2 linked regions of the Homo sapiens genome follow. The protein of the gene in region 2 interacts with the protein of the main gene of each other region in a pairwise test. Each region holds a gene or a part of one and is shown on either strand. Other genes may lie near its edges.

Region 1 (10,030 bases), on a different chromosome or scaffold from region 2:
TCTTCCTCACTCTCCTTCACCCCATCTCTGCCTTGTAGGCATCTATGCCCTTCCCTTTACCATCCCTGAGCTCTAACGGGTTTTCTGAGACCCCTTTACTGCTGGACACTACTCATCTGTTTTGTCTTCCAAGTTCTGGCAAGCCATACCTGCTCACTGTCTCCCAGTGTGTACTTTTAAGAGAGATCCCCCTGACTCAGGCTGGGACATACCTGCGGAAGGATGGTGATGCGGAAGGACTGGTTGGTAACCTCACCCATTAGGTAGAGTGAGATGACTGGGAAAATGTTCCAAGGGGTGGTGCCTGCTTGCCAGCACACCAGCTGCTCTCCTAGCCAGAAACCATCAGGGAACTTCTCCGTCTGTGTTGGCAAGAAGGGGATAACAATGAGGAAAAGCCTCTTTATCATCTCGCCCCTCCCATGTTCAGATACATTAACTGGGCCCTTCATTTGCTTTTCCAGTGAAATATCTAAAGTGGGGAGGGGTAAACCAACCAGAGGATTACAGGAAGAGAGAGGGAGTGTGATGTCAAACTTTTGTACCGGGGGATTGTGTGATGAGCAAAGTGACAGCCATAAAGGGGAAGAGTTTTTTTTTTTTTTTTGAAACAGTGTCTCACTCTGTTGCCCAGGCTGGAGTGCAGTGGCGCAATCATGGCTCACCGCAACCTCCACCGTCCTGAGTTAAAGTGATTCTCCTGTCTCAGCCCCCTGAGTAGCTAGGATTACAGGCGTGCGCCACCACACCCAGCTAATTTTTGTACTTTTAGTAGAGATGGGATTTCACCCTGTTGGTCAGGCTGGTCTTGAACTCCTGACCTAGTGATCTGCCCACCTTGGCCTCCCAAAGTGCTGGGATTACAGGCGTGAGCCACCACGCCTGGCTAGGGGAAGAGTGTTTTAAGAGCTCTGAGTAGAAGGGTCTAAGTGCAGACATCTTGGCTGTTGCTGAAGAATGTGACTCTCACCGCCTCCCTCTGACACTGTACCATCTCTTTTACCCCCATCCTTAGTCCACTCACGGAGGAGGCTGCCTTGATGGATTTGACTGCAGCTTCAAACACTTTCTTGGGCAAACGAAGGTTGGTGGTGCCACTGTCCACAATGCTCTTGTCATAGTTGTACTAAGAGGGAAAAGAGAGAGTTAAAAGAGTCAAAAGGTTTTTGATGCTGGGCTCTGGGCAGTAGGGGGTTACTGCTGGGGCCCCAGCTGGGTTGGCATCTTGGCTTTGGCACCTCCTAAGTGTACCTGCTTGGACAAGTTAACCTCTGTGCCTCAGTTCCTTCATCTCTAAAGTGAGGATAAAAATAGCACCTACCTCAAAGGGTTATTGTAAGGATTAAATAAATCAGCAATGTAAAGCACTTAGAATCGTGCCCAGCAGAGAGAAGGCACTTGGTAAATGTTTATTCTTGTTAATCTTGGGTGGGCAGGTAGTCTCCAAACTTGAAAATAAAAATACCTTGTTTAGTGCTTTTAACTTTTCTTTTCTTTTTTTTTTTTTTTTTTTTTTTTTTGAGATGGAGTATTAGCTCTGTCACCCAGGCTGGAGTACAGTGGCGTGATCTCGGCTCACTCTAACCTCTGCCTCCTGGATTCAAACCATTCTTTTGCCTCAGCCTCCCAAGTAGCTGGGACTACAGGTGCCTGCCACCACGCCTGGCTATTTTTAGTAGAGATGGGGTTTCACCATGTTGACCAGGCTGGTCTCGAATTTCTGACCTCAAATGATCTGCCCCCGCCTTGGCCTCCCAGAGTGCTGGGATTACAGCCACGCCCGGCCGCTTTTAACTTTTCTTAGTACATTTATATCTATTCTAATTTAACATACATAAGAATCTAGGGAAGGAAGACATAAATGATTTAGTTACCTTTTATTGAGTACTGCCAACCACAGAGATAAACACTTTACACATTATCTCTGATATTCTGAGAAAGTTGTTTTTACCTGTTTTGCAGATAAGGAAACTGAGACACAGAATAGTAACTGGCCTAAGGGTACATAGCTAGTACAAATCAGAGCTAGATTCAGATCTGGGTCTTCCTGACTCCAAAGACAAGACTCTTCATTCTATCACCCTGTCTCACAAAAGACTTGCCCAAGGCTACGAAGCAAGGCAGTGACTAGAGTCCAGACATCAGAACTAGTTCCATGTTTTTTTTTTCACTACCAGTCCCTAGGCCCCAAACCGCAGATCCTGCTGTGTGACCATTAAGCCCCTGACTGTTCTAGGCTCAACTTCCAACCCTTTCTGCAGGTCCTATTACCTCTGCCTCATCCTCCCAACATGATAACCAGAGTCTTCCTTCACATTGTACTGCCTACCCCCTTATGTTCCCAGGCTCTCCCTTGGTTTTCTTACCTCCTTGCAGTCCATTTTCAGATCCTGTCCATTGATCTCCACCCGCACAATGATCACCTCATAATACCACTCCCGCCGGATGGGTGTATACCAGAGACTGCCTGTGTACAGCGAGTGGTCGATACCTCCAATGATCTAGGGAAAAAAAGAGGCAGGTACCCGTGTCCTGGCACAGAAGGAGAGTGAGTCCCCCAAGGACCAAGCAATAAGATCAGTGATTTCTTGGGGTGGCAAGGTCTTCTACAGGCTACCCTTTTCATCTTCCTGCTTCTAAACAAATCATACCCAAAGTGATTTCTAGTTTCTTAAATGTGTTCAGGAGAAAAGACTTTCCGGGATTTTTAATTATTTGTTTCAGAATCATACAGCCCTTGATATAAAGTTATTTAAATCTAAACTGCCACAATAAATGTTGAATGAATGGTTATTTGTTTATATTATAAGTTTTATTTTCTCTGCTTATTGGAGAACCATTCACCATTGTTCTAATTAATTAATAAATAGACAAACTTCTTATATCTCTGCCTTCTGACCATCAAACTGAATAATTTTAATTCAACAGGTCTTATTTTCATTTCCTTTGAAATTTTCCTAATTGCCTTCCTTTCCAAGTTTACCATAGGTGCCTTGATTCCTTTCTGGAATAACGCAAAAAAGAAAAGAATGGAAAAATAAAGTAAGGGTAGGGAATATAAAGAGGTTCCTCCTGATTCTAAGTATCGGAGCCAAAACTGTGGTGTAGCTTTCAGGAAGGGGAGAGGATGGCACCCATCTCTCCCTCAATGCCAGGACCTCCCCTCTCTGAGGACCTACTCACCATGCTCCCTCCGACAGAGGCCAGCACTTCAGACTGGTTGAGGGGGAAGCCAGCACCACAAAGCTGCAGGGAGAAGAGGTTGGGAACGTGGGTCTGCTTTACCAGAGAGTCAAAGAAAGGCTCCAGGGAGTCGTCAGGCTTTGGCAGAAAGAGACAAGGAGTGAGTCCTCATACGGCCCTAAAGGCAGAGGCCAGCTTCCTGTCTAAACTGGAAGGCAAATTTGAAGGCTTGGGGGATGCTCCTTGGGAAAGACCATCTTAAGGCACTGAGATTTGGCAGAGGAAGGGTTAGCAGGAGCCCTGGCAATGCAAACAGGACAGTATTGATAGGTTCACAGATTCATAGATCTTTTTTTTTTTTTTGAGACAGAGTTTTGCTCTTGTTGCCCAAGCTGGAGTGCAATGTTACGATCTCGGCTCACTGCAACCTTCACCTCCTGGGTTCAAGTGATTCTCGTGCCTCAGCCTCCTGAGTAGCTGGGATTATAGGCATGCGCCAACATGCCCGGCTAATTTCTGTGTTTTCAGTAGAGATGGGGTAGATGGGGTTTCACCATGTTGGTCAGGCTGGTCTTGAACTTCTGACCTCAGGTCATCCGCTCGCCTTGGCCTCCCAAAGTGCTGGGATTACAGGTGTGAGCCACCACGCCTGGCCAGGTTCATATATCTTTGATCCCCCTATGCCTAACCTGCTTCAAATTTATGGGGGCCTTTATTAAAGATCTTAGAGTGGCTGGTCGCGGTGGTTCATGCCTGTAATCCCAGCACTTAGGAAGGCCGAGGTGAGCGGATCACCTGCGGTCAGGAGTTCGAGACCAGCCTGGCTAACATGATGAAACCCCATTTCTACTAAAAATAGAAAAAATTAGCCGGGCGTCATGGTGGGCGCCTATAATCCCAGCTACTCGGGAGGCTGAGGCAGGAAAATCGCTTGAACCGAGGAGGTGGAGGTTGCAGTGAGCCAAGATTGCACCATTGCACTCCAGCTTGGGCAACAAGAGTGAAACTCCGTCTCAAAAAAAAAAAGATCTTAAGAGTACATAGAAAGCACAGCCTATTCTTGTACCTATCACAGCTTCTGTCACTATGGTTCTGCCCTCTATAGGGCTAAAATTTAGACTGCCACCCTATACCCCTGTTAAATAATCCTTTAAACTGATTGTTGCCCTCCTTCTGCTAATTCCCCTTCTCTCTCCTAATTCCTTCTCTGTATAGTGCAGTGTGCATAGAGTGTGTAGGGCCAAGCCCTGTTCCTCTCACCCTGGCAATCTCAGCATAGGCCAGCCCCAGGATGCCTTCCCAGTTGGAGCCGTTGATGAAGAACTTGTCTGATTCAGTGATGGCAGCAATGTTGGCACGCACAGTGACGTTGGGGCCATGGGGGATGCTTACCAGGTCGGTGCCCAGCTCCCCTTCCCACTTGCCCTGGGTGTAGGGCACATACACACCCTTCCGGAGGTCCCGGTATGTGCTGGACCTGTGGAAAGAAGGCAGAGATCTGTGGATGCATAACCACAACTGGTATAAGGATCTAAGTTAAACTTACTCCCAAACACCACCTTATCTCATCTCAGGGGAATCCTAGAGTCTGCTTTCAGGCTGCTCAGCAAAACATCCCTAGACTCACCACCCAGAACAGAGTGTAAAGTGGGCTTGCAGATAGATGAAGGGAACCATTGGTGAGGCTTGCTCTCCTATCTATTGCTCATATTCCTAGATCTTGAGCTCAGGCCCTGTGAAGAACAAGCCTGGGCTTTGTGCATTGTGCCTGCTGCTGCTGCTGCTGCAGGGACAGCTAGTGGGCATCTCTTCCGCCCTCTGGCTCCGTCAAGCTCCCCGAGAAAAGGAACCATTGACTCTCTTACTGCCTTGGAACCTAGTGGTACCATCCGAGTGGTAGAGAAAGTGCCAGGCAGGGTGAATGTGGAACCTCTACAGCAAGTTCTAGAGAAGGGGTTTGTTCAAGCATCTCAGAAAAGCAGGTTGGTATTACACACCACTTCTGTGAAACGTGCTCAACATGTGGCAGCCCCACCTGTGTTTAATCACACCACTAACCAGGGCTTCTGTGTGTGGTGGGGGCAGTGATGGAACTGGAACGAGGAACTGGAGTGAATGCCCTTTCATCGATCCTACCTGCACCCTCCTCCCTGACTGCTTCTTTTAGATTGGGACATTAGAGGAAACAGGGAAGGTGCGTTTTGCAGCTGCCTACAAGTCCAAGGATAGGATTTAAGCCTCTACTCACGTTTGCACACACTGATGTCTCAGATATTGGTGTCCTCTCATCCCTTCTTCTTCCTGCTTTTATGCTAAGGGGGCTTCCAGATTACCCCTCACTGCCTCTTATCTTAAAGCCCACTTCAACCCCCCTTTCACCAGTCCCCCACTTTCACCAGTCCTCTTCAACCCCCCTTTCACCAGTAAGCTGAATCCAACTGGTGGCACCCTGGGTGGTGCATGGAGGAGATATTTCAGCTTTCAGTTCTGATACTGGTCTAGGCAGAGGGGTTTATGAAAGACCCTTTCCTTCATGTCCTTGGACTATGCAAAGCCACCTAGAGTGGCCCCTGGGTAAGAACACAGCAAGGGGAGCCGTCACTGAGGCCTGTTCAGCTTAGACTTAGCTGGTGTTAGAGAACTGAGAGACACCGAGGGGATGTGGGGTTTTCGTCTCCCCATTCAGGCAGAGAAAATGGGCCCCCTAAGATTGTTCTGTGAGCTATGGGCTCTTCTTCCTTTCCCTCCCACAGGAGGCTGCCCTGTCTCAGCACTGAAGCACTTCCTGGCTACCTCTCAATTCACCCTTTCCCATGGTATAGCTCCTCTCACCACCCACTTCACCCTGTCTCTCCTGGTCACTGTCTTTTTTTCGCCCTTCCCCTTCCCTGGCAAGAAGAAAATCTGAGGATCAACTCTTTCTCTCTGTACCCCTCCCCTGACCCTTCTTAGCCCTGGATCCTTGGAAAAGGTACTTCCCCCGGGCTCTCCCCAGGACTCACAGCTGCCTCTGGTAGTAGCGATGCAGGAAGGGGTGGGGGGCAGCACCCACTGCAAAGTTACTGCTGCCTGTATCCACCAGGATGTTGAGCTGTCAGAGAAAGGGGAGAGAAAAGACAGTATAGACAGGAGGCTTCGGTCACACCACCTTTATTATCCCTCACGCCCCAGCCACAGTCTGCCCCTTAGAATGTCCAGAGTGAAGCTCCACGATGCAGGACTGGTCCAGGCTGGCACCCGTTACCACCACGACCACAGACAGGACCTGGGGTCCTGTGGTGCTGCAGGGGCCAAAGGAACACTTCCCCTGTGCCCTCTGCAGGTCTGCTGAAAAACCAACTGAAAAAAGGCAGATTAGTAGAAGAACTAATATGCAAGGGAGTCAAAAAAATATAGGAAGTCAAAGAGATAGCCAGATGGTTGATGATTTTATACCATCTTGAGGTTACAGAAAGAATGGGAGCTTGGGCAAGGTGCAGTGGCTTACCCCTGTAATCCCAGCACTATGGGAGGCTGAGGCAGGTGGATCACCTGAGGTGAGGAGTTTGAGACCAGCCTGGCCAACAGGACGAAACTCTGTCTCTACTAAAAATACAAAAATTAGCTGGACATGGTGGCACATGCCTGTAGTCCCAGCTACTCAGGAGGCTGAGGCATGAGACTCACTTGACCCTGGGAGGTGGAGGTTGCAGTGAACTGAGACCATGCCACTGCACTCCAGCCTGGGCGACAGAGACCCTGTCTCAACAACAAAAAAAAAAGGGACTTGGACTTTGGCAAAAATAGTTATGGGAGGGATAAACGGAGGCCAGGCCAGTAAAAGTGGTCTTTTTATATGAATGAAACCTCATAGGTAACACCCCTCAGAGAAAACAGGTGATGTATGTGTCTTTCAGACCTTTAAACATGTCAGACTTTCAGTTAATCTTTCCTAGATTTGGACCAGGGAGGGCCTCAGAGAAAGCCAGGTTGCATCAATGCAGATTCTCTGCAGATGCAAATCTCCCTCAAAAGCCAGATTTGCAGGGCCACTTCTGTGTGCTGGCCCTCTGACAGCCGACTCAAAATACGTCAAAGTAGTATATTCTGGGGTAAAATATCTTGGTTTCCTTTGGCACCCTCAACATGGCCTTAGAAATGCTGTGTCTGAGGCCAGCACAGTGGCTCACAACTGTAATCCCAACACTTTGAGAGGCTAAGGCGGGTGGATCACTTGAGGTCAGGAGTTCAAGACCAGCCTGGTGAATGTAGTAAAATCCCATCTCTACTAAAAATACAAAGATTAGCCGGGTGTGGTGACGCACGCCTATAATCCCAGCTACTTGGGAGGCTGAGGCAGGAGAATCACTTGAACCCAGGAGGCGGAGGTTGCAGTGAGCCGAAATTACACCACTGCACTCCGGCCTGGACGAGAGCAACACTCCGTCTCAAAAAAAAAAAGAAAAGAAAAGAAACGCTGTGTCTGCTTCAGTCTATGGAGTCATAACATTTTGTGCGTCATCTCAGAGCTATGTGGTGTGTGTGCTGTCTCTGTTCCCATGTCTCTCTACCGTCACATCACCCCTGCTCACTGTGTACCTGACTGATTCTGTCTTCAGGGCCCCCTGCTCCTTTTCAATTCTCCCAGGAAGCAGTCTGGCTTATCCCCTCCAGCTCAGAGAAGACCTATTCTAGGAGCTGTACTGGTCAGGGGACCTGTGGGGACCAGGATGGCACATCAGTGTCCATGCGTGTGGTTCTGTCCCTGCCACCAGAATGTGGCTCCCCTTCTGTCTCACAGGTGACACAGACCTAGGAATCCTACTGTCAGAAATAGTGGGGAGCCAGGAGCCCCATAAAATGTCCTGGTGAAAACCCATCTTGTCAGGGCCCTGGATTTGGCTAAGTGAAGATGGACAGGTGTCTTGGTGTTCCCTTCTGTCCAGCTCTTTCTAGCATCACTTCTTTTTTTTGAGATGGAGTTTCGCTCTTGTTACCCAGGCTGGAGTGCAATGGCGCGATCTCGGCTCACTGCCATCTCCGCCTCCTGGGTTCAAGTGATTCTCCTGTCTCAGTCTCCTGAGTAGCTGGGATTACAAGTGTGCGCTACCACGCAGGGCTAATTTTTGTATTTTTAGTAGAGACGAGGTTTCACCACGTTGGCCAGGCTGGTCTCGAACTCCTGACCTCAGGTGATCCACCTGCCTCGGCCTCCCAAAGTGCTGAGGCGTGAGCTACCATGCCCGGCCTCTAGCATCACTTCTCCTTGGCCCTTTCTTCCTCCTTTGATGGCCTGACCCCACCTTCAGTCAGACCAGAGCCATTTTTTGAAAGTCTACTATATCCTCACAGGCAAAAAAAGGAAAGGCCCCACCCTCAGAAAAATGGTAATTTGTAAGTTGCATCTCGCCTCTTGCCGACTTTCCATCACCTCAGGTTCTCCTCTGCCCCAGGGGCCTTCATTTCTGTATCTTCTCTCCTCAGTCCAGTGAAATCAACTGACCTCAGTTTTGGTGCAGGCCCTGACCCTGTCACCTTGAGCAGATCACTGTGCTTCTCTGGACTTCAGTTTCGTCCTCTCTGCCAGATCCTCTCTGGCTCCTTCCTGCTCTCCGTGGTGCCTCTGTGGCTGTGCTGACTGTGCCCTCCCCCAGTGCCTGCTTAGACCTCCTGGCCTCCTCACATCCCCAAAGACTCCTCTGACAATCTCCCGGCCCTCAGACCTTGTCTCCTCCCTCCTTCCCAGCCCCCCACTCCTGGCCTGGTTTCCATTCCCCTCCCTGCCCCTCTTCCCCTACCTCTACCCGTGGTCTCTCTCCCCGGTCTCTGGGCAGCCACCAGCTCCAGATGCTGTGCTTTCAGAGAAAATCAATAGAGCTGGGAGGCTCAGCAGTTCAGATGAAATCAACCAGGTTAATGATTAAGAAGGCTTCTTCACCCACCCTCTCCCCACGAACCCTCTTCCCCATTCTCAGGACTCAGCTCCCAGCATGGGGGGCTGGCCTCATATTACAGGGCTCCCTGCTATCACTGGACCCCAAAGAAAGAGGATCTCCTCCACAACAAGTCTCTGTGGCCTGTGCAAGGGAGGGAACATCCGGCAAGTTCTAAGCAAATATGGCTACTGCTTTACACTGGAGTGGAGCTTTGACCTGGGGGCTCCTGCTGTCCCTGCCCCTCCCTGCCTCCCCCTTCCTCTCCTGCGAGGCAGGAGGGAGCTCTCTGCAGGGTACTCCCACCCCAGCCCTGAGGCCCTGGGCGCTCTTGCTGTCCTTCCAGCCCCAGCCTTTCCCCCTGCCACCCCAAAGGGGGCCAGGCCGAGCCCAGGAAGGAACGTCCCCCTCCACTCCCATCCCTCTCACCCACCCCAATACTACGATTTCAGGTCCCCACTGCTCTCTGCCTCCCCTCTCCACCTTACACACACACACAAAAGAAAACCAGAATAAACAGTTGGGCTTCTCTCCCGAGCAAATGTCGACCCGTCTGCCCTCTGCGGTGTGCTCCCGCCCGAGAGAAGTAATTCTGGTCCTGTCCTTCAGCGCTTCGAATGGGAGCCCTGGCCAGTCCCGGCAGCCTTTTCCCCACCCCTGCTCCATTCCAAGCGGGGGGATGGGGGGGGCTCTTAACAGGACGGGCCCGAGGCAAGGCTGAGGCACTGCTTGCTCATTATGAAACAGGGCAGTTCAGGGCGGCCTGGGCAGAGGCAGCGGTGGAGGGGCTGCAGCCGCCGAACCCCAGCAGCTGGGTTCCCCTCTCGGGTCACTGAACTGGGCCAGGGGATGAGACTGCCCTCATCTCCCACAGCCAACCACACCAACCTGCCTGCGGCTGCCCCTTCCAGGCTCCTCATGAGCTGCCACCTGTG
Region 2 (10,180 bases):
GCTAGGCAACAGGCTCTCATAATCAGCTCAGTTCACTTTCCATTTGTATCGTTTTGCTCCTGTCATAACGCACTACTCAAATGACCAGGTTGCTGTGTGCGAAAGGACGCCTCAGGGCAGAGCACTGCTCCTCTCTCCCTCTTCGCCCACCACCCCACAGTGCTGCGGGCCCTTCCAGGGAGGAGGTAGCTGTGAGCGAGGGAAGGTAGCACATATACCGGGGGGAACAGGGCTGGGAAGGATGGGACAGTGTGACAAGCCAGGGGCAAATGGAGGGGGGAAAGTGCAGCCCCAGAACTCCCCGCATGGCATAGTACCCTCAGGCCTGGAGGGGTAATACAGTAAGTCTTCCTTCTGACGTCTCCATCTGCCCCTGGGTTTTCTGATGTCATCCACAGGAGGTACAGAACCTCAGAAGGACATTTCTCAGGCTACAGTAAGAAACAAGCTCTCTGCCTCAAAAACAGCCTAGTTCAGTGGAAAGAAGGTGTTGTAATCACAAGAGCAAGGGCTTGGGAGTCAGGGACTCTGGCTTTGATTCAAAGCCTGGCCACTATCTGGCTGTGTGATCTCAGGCAAGTTGTTTACCTTCTCACAGCCTCAATCTATTAAACGGGGATAATCACCGGGTTTTAAGTTTATTGGGAGGATTAGAGATTAATGTAAAGTATATACAGCAATGTATCTGTCTGGGGTGCTCAATAATGAGCAGTTATTCATTAATTTGTAAAAATTATGTATTCCCACTTGTGTGTCCCGGGAGCAGGTGAGGGTTGCCTTTGCCTGGGCTCCTGAGCAGGAGGCAAGTCCTCTTTTAGTGCATGTGTTGGCCAGAGCTCCATCCAGATATTCACATCAGGATGAACAACCAGAAGGCTGGAAACTAGGGGTGGTTTCCTGCCTCTGCTATTAGTTAAATGTCTTTGGCAAGAAACTTAATGTCTCTGAATCCTGGTTTTCTCAATGTTTAAATGGAAGAATTAACCTTGCTCCATCATAAACTTCAAGACCTCAACTGGAATGCCTGGGCTGATGTGATTCCATGTCAAAGGGGCAAAGCACCCTGGGTTCCTGGGAAGACTTCCAGGGGCAGGCCAGGCTCTGAGCTTACTCAAAGAGGCCCCCTGGCTTGGCCATTCAGCAGTGAGTTAGGAAGAAAATAAACTCAATGATATGTGGGGTGCCACCTGGAATTCCAGAGGGGAAGAAGAGCAGGTGAAAAGCCCCTAGAAGTCCCAGAATGCTCAGAAATAGGGCCTAGCTCCCCTAACCACCTCATCTCATCCCTGCTTCCCTGGTTTGTCCCCTTTCCCCATCTCTATCTCTATCTCTCCTCCCCGACCCCCAACTTTGAAAGAGTCTGAATGATGTGTGCCTGCCCTCTCTCCCCTAATGCAGACAGCCAAGTGCTAACACTAGCAAGGTTAGTGACCTACATGAGAAGTCTGTAGAACTCACAGCAGACCCAGGCCAGGGGCATCACTATGCCCTCACCTTCTTAGCCAGTCTCAGGGCTGCAAGGAAAGAAACCCAGACAGTTGCCTCTAGCTTTGTTGTCAGTCCTGAGAAAGATCCCTGCCTTCTCGTGGCTGCCTGCAGCCCCAGCCCGGTATGCCATGGCCCCTGAGACCTCTGCTCCTCCCTTCTCTTCCAGGCAGAAGATGCATCTGCCCTGGCCTGGCATTTATGCCAGCCTGGCTTTTCCCTGCAGGCCTGTTCCCCAATTCCCTACCCTGCCTTCTTCTATGACTAGGAAGGAGTCCAGCACAGGGGTGCTGGGAAAGGGAGGGTGCTCTGAGACTCATTAACATGACAATTTGGGATGCTGGAGGAACCAACCAGGTTCCACAGCAAGCAGCAGTCCCCAGACCCAACAAGTTACATTGCTCTTTCCTGTCTCCCAGACAGACTCCAGCCAGGCTTTAGGCTGCTGACCATGAGATCCGACACCAGCCCCCAGAGTTTTCTTTCTTTAAAGAATCTAAAGCCATCCTTCAGGGATTTTTTTTTTTTTTTTTTTTTTTTTTTAGCTGTCGAAGCATAATGGGGGAAGCACCTCCCCCGTTCTCCCCTTTCACCTAAAGGAGTTAGGGAAACTGGATTTACTTGGGGAGGAGGCGGTAGGTCTTGCCTAAATCAACCTGTGCTTCCCCCTTCCCTCATACACCCATTTCAAGCAGTAACCTGAACCAGGGCTTTCTGGAAAGACAGTTTGTGCTGCAGCAGAAAGAAAAGAAGCGGCAACAAAAATCTGGTATCATCACCAGGAAGCCTGTGGCTGGCCACTGGCCGTGGGAGCCTGCAGAGCCTAGAACGCTAGGCCCTTCGTGTTTAATTCTCCTCTCACCCCAGCTGAGGCCAGGACATCCCAGGTGTGCAGGAAGCCTCAGGGGCATGGTATCCTCCCTGGCAGAAAGAATGCCTTTCTTAAACCTGGAAAGGAGGCCGGATTGTGGTCTCAGCTTTGCCTCTTCTGAGCTTAAGATGCTGAAGCCTATATCCTCCTCTCTGAAGTGCATAGTTGTGAGCACACTGAGCTGCTGGGAGGATGTAAATGAGGTGGCACGGCATGGAAGCATCTAACAAAACCCACCCTAGTTTCCTTCCTCTCAACCCTGCCTGCCCCCATCAGAAGACCAAATTCCAGCTCTTCCAGGACCGTAGTCCTGTGTGGAGTGGAGGGCAGCTGAAGATAGGGCAGCCTGTGCAGACCAAAGAAGGGGGTGGAGGAGCTGAGCTGGGCACCCCACTCACTGGAGGGGATGCGGCAAAGCAGGCAGCTGGGACTGGGTCCAAGTAGTAAGTCAAGTGTGTGCAATCTCCTGATGGAGCGTGCAGGGGAGAGGGTGGGAGTGTGTAATTCCCCTGCGAGCCACGGAGGGGGGTTGAGAGGAAGGCGGGAACAATCTGCGGTGGTAAGGTAAGTCAGGCTCGGTCCCTGCTCCTCCCGGCCCCTACCCACCACCCACCACGGACCCCTTGCAGACCCAAGATGGGGAGACACGGGCTCCTGCCACTCACCCTAGCGGCCCGGGAGGAGTAGGGATCCTCGAAGAGCGCCCACATGCGGGGCTGCCAGCCGCGGCAGCCCCCAGACCCGGCGCCATGGCCCGCGCCTCCCTCGTGGGGGCCCAGTCGCTGCAGGGCCAGCTCCCGCTCATCGTCGCCGGCCTCGTCGCTGGGCCCCGCGCCGCTGCCGCCTCCGTCCGGGCTCTCGAAGATGTCGAGCGCCTCCTCGGCGTCGCGGTGCTGCCGGTAGGTCATCCAGCAGCAGGGTTCCACGTCGGTCTCGTCGATGCCCCAGAAGGTGAGCTCCTCTTCGAAGAGCGGCCCGCACACGTCCGCGGGGCAGTGCAGCTTGCCGGTGCGGTAGTAGTTGAGCACGTAGGCGAAGACGCCCGGGTGCCTGTCGAAGAAGAACTCGCAGCCCCCGCCGCCGCTGCTGCCGCTGCTACCCACACCGCCGCCATCGGTCTCGGGCCGGCCCCCGCCGTCGGGGTCGGCCAGCCAGGCGAGGCGGGTTCCCGGTAGGGTGCGCAGGGTGCTGCGGTAGGTCTCATGTCGCGTGCCGCCCACGTTGATGATGATCTTCTCCGACGCCTCGCCCTTGGCCATCTCCTCCTTCAGACATGTTTTGGACGGAGGCTTGTTCCCCGACTTGCGCCCGCGGTAGGAGGAGACACACACCGAGCTGATCATAAGAAGCGCTGCGGGGCTCCGGCTTGGGGCGGCCGCTGCCCTCCAAACACCCTTCCCGAGGAGGCAGCGTCAGACGGGGGAGGGGGAGGAGACGAAGAGGAGGCAGGAGGCGGTGGCGGCCCCCTCTGCGGCTTGGGCTTGCCCCTGCCTATCCCCCTAGGACGCGGAGCGGGAGGAGTTGGATTTCTCCGGTACACAGGTGGTTGGGGTTAGGGCAGGAAGCTCCGGAGAGAGGGAGGCGCAGAGAGGGAGGACCCGGGGAAGTAGAAGCAAGCACACACGCGGTCCCCCGCTACGACGGGACACACAAACGCTCTGGGCCGGGGACACGCCCCCGCCTTCACCCCGACCAAAGACGAGGAAGCGCACAGTCCACGCGCACCGCGAAGGTCCGGGGCGCTCGCGCTCACACGGGCCACCCTCCGGCTCCAAGACCGCACCAAGCCCCGGAATAGCCGGCTTCCCCGCAGCGGCGGCAGCGCAGCAGCAACAAGTCCTCCGAGCGGCTGCCGGGGCCAGGCCGACACTCTCACGGCAGCCGGAGCTCCGTGGGCCCGGGCTGCTTGCGGTCAACACGAGGCGGCGGCGGCGGCATGTGGCCTCTTCCCCCCATTCATAAATCCAGCGCCGGGCGAGGAAGGCAGGCGGGGCAGAGCAGAGAGCGGCGGCCGGGCGGGCGGGGGCTGCGCAGGGCGAGGCGGCAGCTGGAAAACAAGCGCGCCCGCAGGAGCGAGCCTCGGGTCCTGCGTCCGCGGCTGGGAGCTGCGCCGGACCGGGCGCAGCGCTGCGGGGGCCGCGCTGGGGCGGGGGTGCCTCAGACGGGGCGTCCTGCGCGGCGCCGAGCCTGGGGGGCGGGGCCGCTCTGGGGAGCCGGGCTCTGGGCACTGGCGAAGGTGTACCGGGGGCGGCGGCCGAGCGGCCAAGGACACCTGCAGGCTTCCCGGGCCGCGCGGAGAGGGAGCCTCAGCGCAACGCCCCGGCGCCTGGTTCCTGCGATCTGGCGGCGCTGGGAGCCACGCCATCTACGCGTCTGCCCATCTCCGGGCGGGGCGCCGGCCTTGGCTCGCGCGCGGCAGGGGGCGGGCGCGAGGTGGCATAGGGGAGGGGGCGCCTCGGCGCCGGTGGGCTGGGGCCCTAGGGGCTCATGGTCTCCCTCCGGCGCTGGCAGCGGCCGCCACGCCCCAGTGGCGCCTTTTCCTCCGGGGCCCCGCCTCGCCCAGACGCGCCCTTCGCGGGGCGGGGTGGGCGGGGCGCGGCGCAGCGCGGGGCCGATCCGACTCACTGCAGGCCCTGGCGACCGAGCGCAGTCTTCCTCCCCGGAGCCGAGCCCCAACCAAGCGCGTCACCTCCTCGCCGCCAGTGCCCAGCCCAGCGCGCCGCCCCTGCGCGCTTCCGCCGGCAACCCCTCCCGCCCCCCTCAGCCCTGCTCCGCGCCTCCCCCGGGCCCGCAGCTCCTCCCACCGCAGCCCGCTGACACCGAAGCGCTCTCGACCCCTGACCTCTAACCTCCGCCCGGCTCTTCTTGCTTCGTCCCTCGCCCCCTCCCCGCCAAGCTGGTCGCACTGTTGCCGTTTCACTGCGGCTGACGGAAGGCCAAGGAAGAAAGAGGGTAGAGACGCTGTCGCGAGGATCAGGCTGCCCTCTCCTTTCCCAGGGACCGTGTTGGGGCCTTCTGACCACCCCGCCCCGCATCCTGCGCCTCGGAGGCCCAACGTAGCCCAAGACACCCATGGTCTTGATGCTCTCCGCCTCTGTCCCAGCCACCAAAGTCCCCGCGATGGAATGGAGGACGGGGTGGCCTTGGGCAGAGAAGCGCTTCTTGTGCCGGATGGAAGGAAACCGTAGCTCTGGCTGTGTTCATCGCGAAATGTTTTATGGATGTGGAGTGGGTGGGTGGCCCTGAAAAGTCATTAGTTAAAGCCTTTGCTCGTCATTGCTCTGGGGTCCACATAGGAAATGCCCGTGTCCTGCCTCATGACCCCTTCCTGTTTCTACTCTTATTCTACCCATTACAATTTGACTTTGCCTGTGTATATGTCTCCTCTCCCCTCCCTAACCCTGAGCTCCTGCAGGCGGCATTGTGCTTTTTCATCTTGATAGCTCCCACAGTGCCTGCCTCTGAGAACCTGTTTGCTAAGTGATTGAGAAGCTGCCATACCCAAAACGTAGGCACCAACAGGACTTTACTGGCCCTATCCCAAGAGCAATTTCCAGATTCATTTGTTTTTGTTAAGTCCAGAACCTATTTTACATCTTCATATTAATCCCCATTGGGTTTTTTTTTCTTTTTTACAGCTTCAGGCAGCCTCCATGCCTGTCTGGATGATGTAAAGAGATCTTGAGGCAGAAATGAAAGGTGAATGACACACCTGCCCTGGACACCTGTGCACCTTCCCAGTTCCAGATCAGGCAGTACCTAGCTCAACTGAGAAAAACAAGACAAGGGCCTATGTGTGTCTCAGGAAAGGTTAAAAGCTCAGTGCCAATGCAAGGGATTTTTACAAGCAAAAGTCTCATTATTAATGAGGCCAGAAAACCAAAATGACAATGATCTTTGATGATCTGTACTGACACGCAGGGGAGGTGAGTTAATCAGAAACACACATTTACTGGCACCCCCTTTGTGCCCAGTCCCTGCTCCTCGAAACTGATGTTTGTATTTCAGAGTTTAGCTGTCTTTGAGTTTGCTGCAGTGAAAAGAAATATCCCAAGTGTGACTGGGAAGAGAAGACCCGGGACAGGCCAGAAACTGGAGTGAGGAAGAAAGAACCACAGAATATTAATGTAATGAATAACTTTCAAGTCCTATCTGGTCCGTGTCCTGGCAAAGTCCCTTGGGGTCTCTCCCCTGCTTTCCGTTCATCAGGATGACTGAGCTCAGTAATTGTAACAAAGGGAGTGTAGTAGGCAAGGGGACAAAACCCATAGTATCCCACCCCTGATTGACTTATTAACTCAATGAACACTTATTGAATACCTACGATATGCCAGAAGCAGTTCCGGGTACTGGAAATACATCAGTGAATAAAACAGCCACTCATCCTAGTAAATCTGCCCAACTGGTGCTTCCACTCTGCGGTGCTTGTGGATAGTGATGAGCACCTGGGGAGATGGGTAAAGGGAGAAAGCTGCCAGGGAAAAAGGAGGCCAAGAGGGAAGGGAGGAAGATCAGAAAGTTGGGACACAGGCATAGGAACCTAGGAAGAGCTGACAAAAACAGAGGGCCCAGCCTGAGAGAGGCAGCTGGGTAAAGGTGCATGGGGCCAGGACTCCCAGCTCTGTGCACTGACCAGCTCGGGAGAGGGGAGCTCAGCCTCAGTCCTGAGGCCTCCAGAGAATGCCTCACCCTTGCTGAAGGTTTATTCTAGAACTCTGGGCTCACCTGTTACGTGTACCTCTCTGAGGGAGTCGATATGCTGCAGTTAGCACTATGGGACTTGTCCCCATCATTTCTTTGTGTGAGGTCTTGGTGTTCCCTCAAAACACAGAGCCGGGGAAGGATAGGAGAGCCCCCTGCCCAGGCTACTGTGACACAGCCTACCATGGATGTGAGGGTGCTGCCCTCTGGTGGTGCTAGAACATCCTGGCTCCAGACCTCGCCCTGAGCTCTGGGGGCTGTGATGTGGGCAGATGGGGTGGCAGCTGATTCTGGGCTTCCTGTTGATTCCAGGACCTCAGGTACATCTTCTAGCCTAACTCTGCCATTGGGACTCTGCCTACTCCCTCCCTTCTTCATTCCTCCAAGACCTTGATACCTGACAGGCTTAAGCAAGACCACAAAGCAGCCACTATTGGAAATTCCTAGTTCCCCAAGCTTCTTTCCCTCATTTTCACCTTTTCTCTTTTGTCCTCTCCTTAGTGCCCTGGCTTCTTCAGGCTGTCAGGGAAGAGCACCTGTCTGAAAGCCAGTTCACAGAAGGTGTCAGCCACAGCGGGTTTCCCTCATCAGGGGTGAGGGTGTGGTGAAAGAATAGGAAGAGAGGGCCATGGGAGATTCTAAAGGGGCACCGATGGAGGCTGTCAAGCACCTGCACCCTTTCCAGGCCCCCCCTCCACCCGCATAATAAGGTCCTCACCCTCTGAGTGCCGACGCTGACCCTGTCCGTAGGAAGCTGAAAGCCTGAAATCAAAGCCGTTTACCCTTCCCCTTTCCCCACTGGGAGCTTTGTATGGGCTCAGCCTCTTTAGGATGACTGGAGCCATCCAATCTCCTCTCCATCTTCCTTCTTTGAAACCTGTTTGTGGTGAGGGGCTCCAGGCCAAGGCAAGGTTCTATCCATTGGTGCTCACACTTTCCCTTTTTGGTATTCTAGCTCCTGCCAGGGACTGACCCTCCTTCAGGTCCAGGCCAAGGAGCCAGCATCCTTTCCCAGCATGCCTCACTCTCTCCCAGCCTGGAAAATTGAATTGCTTTATCAGACTCATTAGAGGGTGATAGGGCCTCCCCGCTCATGGGGGAACAAGAGAAGGGAAGGCAAGAGCAGGCTGGCAGCCTCCTGTCTGCGTCTCAGCTCACTTCATCCTGCCTCCCCCAACCCCAAGCAGCCTGCAGAGACTTGCAGGCTCCAAATCAAATGTGAGAGCCTTCTTTGGGGGGAGGGGGGTTGGTGGGGGAGGGGCTCTGGGGAGAACCTAGCCCTAGTAATTCAGGTCTTGTGAAGATCAGTAGAATGGCTCTGCCTCAGGACTGAAAGCAGGGTTGGGTTGCTGTGGTAATCCCAGTGAAGTTGTATCTGGGGCTCAAAGGTGGCCTTTGAAGGCCCAGCTCTTAAAGAGAAGAGATCAGAAGCTCGGGCCTGGGCAGGGCTCAGGGCCTCATACACTATGGACCTGGAGTCATAGGGTTGGAGGGGACCTGAGTGTTAGCTCATGGACACCTTCCCCCCGCTTAGGGATGTCAGGCCTAAGCAGCAGCAGCGAACTCTGAGAGACGGAGCTAGGGCTGGTGTTGGGCCAAGGACAGAGAACGATACGGGGGCCACCAGCTGAGTGGACCCTAGAGGCCTCCTTGTTTAAGGCTCCTGGGCTGGGAACTCAGCCTGCATCCAGACAGCACACTCCCGCCACCGCGCCTGCCACATGCACGCTAGCCCAGGGTCCGGCTGGCAAGACCTCTTGACACTTAGCATTTCTCCATCTAGAAAAGTAGAGATTGCTCCCACCTGGGCTAAGTTCCAGGAAAAACTGGTTCATTCCATTAGAGGAGTTAATTAGTCCTGATGGGCCCAGTCCCCTCCAGCAATATCCTGGGGAAAGGGGAAGCAGGTGTCTGGAGAGACAGGCCAAACTCAGGTTCCTCTTGGGTGCTCCTGAAGTCCAGGGATTCTTCCCTGCTTGGGTCAGCCCTGGGCAGAATGGAGGGACCCAGAACCCAGGCAGCTCAGACCCAGGGACAGAGAGCAGATCCCCACTGAGTCTTTATGCTCTGCAGCCAGGACTGTGCCTGGCATGGATCAATCTTTGTAAGGGTTTGTGGTTGAATGACAGGCATAGTCTTCTCCCATCTCAAGGTTTCTTCCCACCTAAGATGATGTAATTAAAGAATGCAGCAGCGTGCCTGGCACCAGTGAGTGTGCCAGGAAGGGAGATGCCCAAGTCAGATTGTGACTGCCTCTGCGAGCCAGGGACTCTTGCCTGGTCCTTTGTATATTCCCAGTGCTCAGCACAATCCCAGGCACTCAAAATACCTGATTCATGCTTGCTTGATGCATGGAATTAATGAGGCGGGGGGTGGCGGGGGAGGAGTCCTCCCTGTCAGTTTCTTGCTGTGTGGCAGAGAGTGCACTAGATTGGGAGTCAAGAAACCCAGGCATTGGCCCCGATCTTCCCCTTGCTTGGTTGTGGGAAGTCTGGTCTTTTCCTCTTTGGGCCTCCGTTTCCCCCATTGTTGTACAAGGAGGTTTGACCAGATAATCACTAAGGTTCATATTCTGGTTACTATTGTTATGAAACAAATTACCCCTAGTATGTAGTGATATAAACCCAACAGCCATTTTATTTTGTTTATTATTTTATGGGTCAGGAAATAAGGAAGGGCTCAGTTGAACAGTTCTTGCTTAGGGTCTCTTATGCAGCTACAATCAGATGTCAGCGGGCTGCAAACATCTGAAGCTCAGCTGGGCTAAACGTTCAGTATGCTGTGTTCATGTGGCTGGCAGTTGACACTGGCTGTTGGCTGGAAGCTCAGCTGAAGCTGTCAACCTAAGCATCTGCAAACATATCGCCTCCCTAGCATGGCAGTCTCAGGGTGGTTGGCTGTCTTACATGGCAGCTGGCTGCCTCTAGAATGAGTATCCCTAGAACACCAGGTGGAAGTGGCACGGCCTTTCCTAATCTAGCCTTGGAAGTCACATAGCATCACTTCTACTATACCCTGTTGGTCACAGGAAGCATTTGCTCACCCAGATTCAAGAGGAGGAGCATAGACTCCACTTTTGATGGGAGAAGTATTAAAAAGAATTTGGGGCCAACCAACAACAAA

Evidence for each region.
Region 1: the proteins of KCNC4 (region 2) and BACE1 interact in binary tests that used the Homo sapiens proteins (3 or more experiments, as listed by UniProt).

The regions. Positions count from the first base shown.
Region 1 is NC_000011.10:117,290,688-117,300,717, forward strand, and holds part of BACE1 (beta-secretase 1 isoform A preproprotein), read right to left. Parts: intron 9,036-10,030; exon of another isoform or gene 8,961-9,035; intron 6,275-8,960; coding exon 6,186-6,274; intron 4,887-6,185; exon of another isoform or gene 4,861-4,886; coding exon of another isoform or gene 4,811-4,860; intron 4,661-4,810; coding exon 4,444-4,660; intron 3,322-4,443; coding exon 3,184-3,321; intron 2,502-3,183; coding exon 2,367-2,501; intron 1,484-2,366; exon of another isoform or gene 1,127-1,483; coding exon 1,025-1,126; exon of another isoform or gene 659-1,024; intron 363-658; coding exon 213-362; intron 1-212. UniProt on the Homo sapiens protein: Responsible for the proteolytic processing of the amyloid precursor protein (APP).
Region 2 is NC_000001.11:110,205,019-110,215,198, reverse strand, and holds the start of KCNC4 (voltage-gated potassium channel KCNC4), read right to left. Parts: upstream 4,886-10,180; 5' UTR 3,700-4,885; coding exon 3,022-3,699; intron 1-3,021. UniProt on the Homo sapiens protein: Voltage-gated potassium channel that opens in response to the voltage difference across the membrane, forming a potassium-selective channel through which potassium ions pass in accordance with their electrochemical gradient.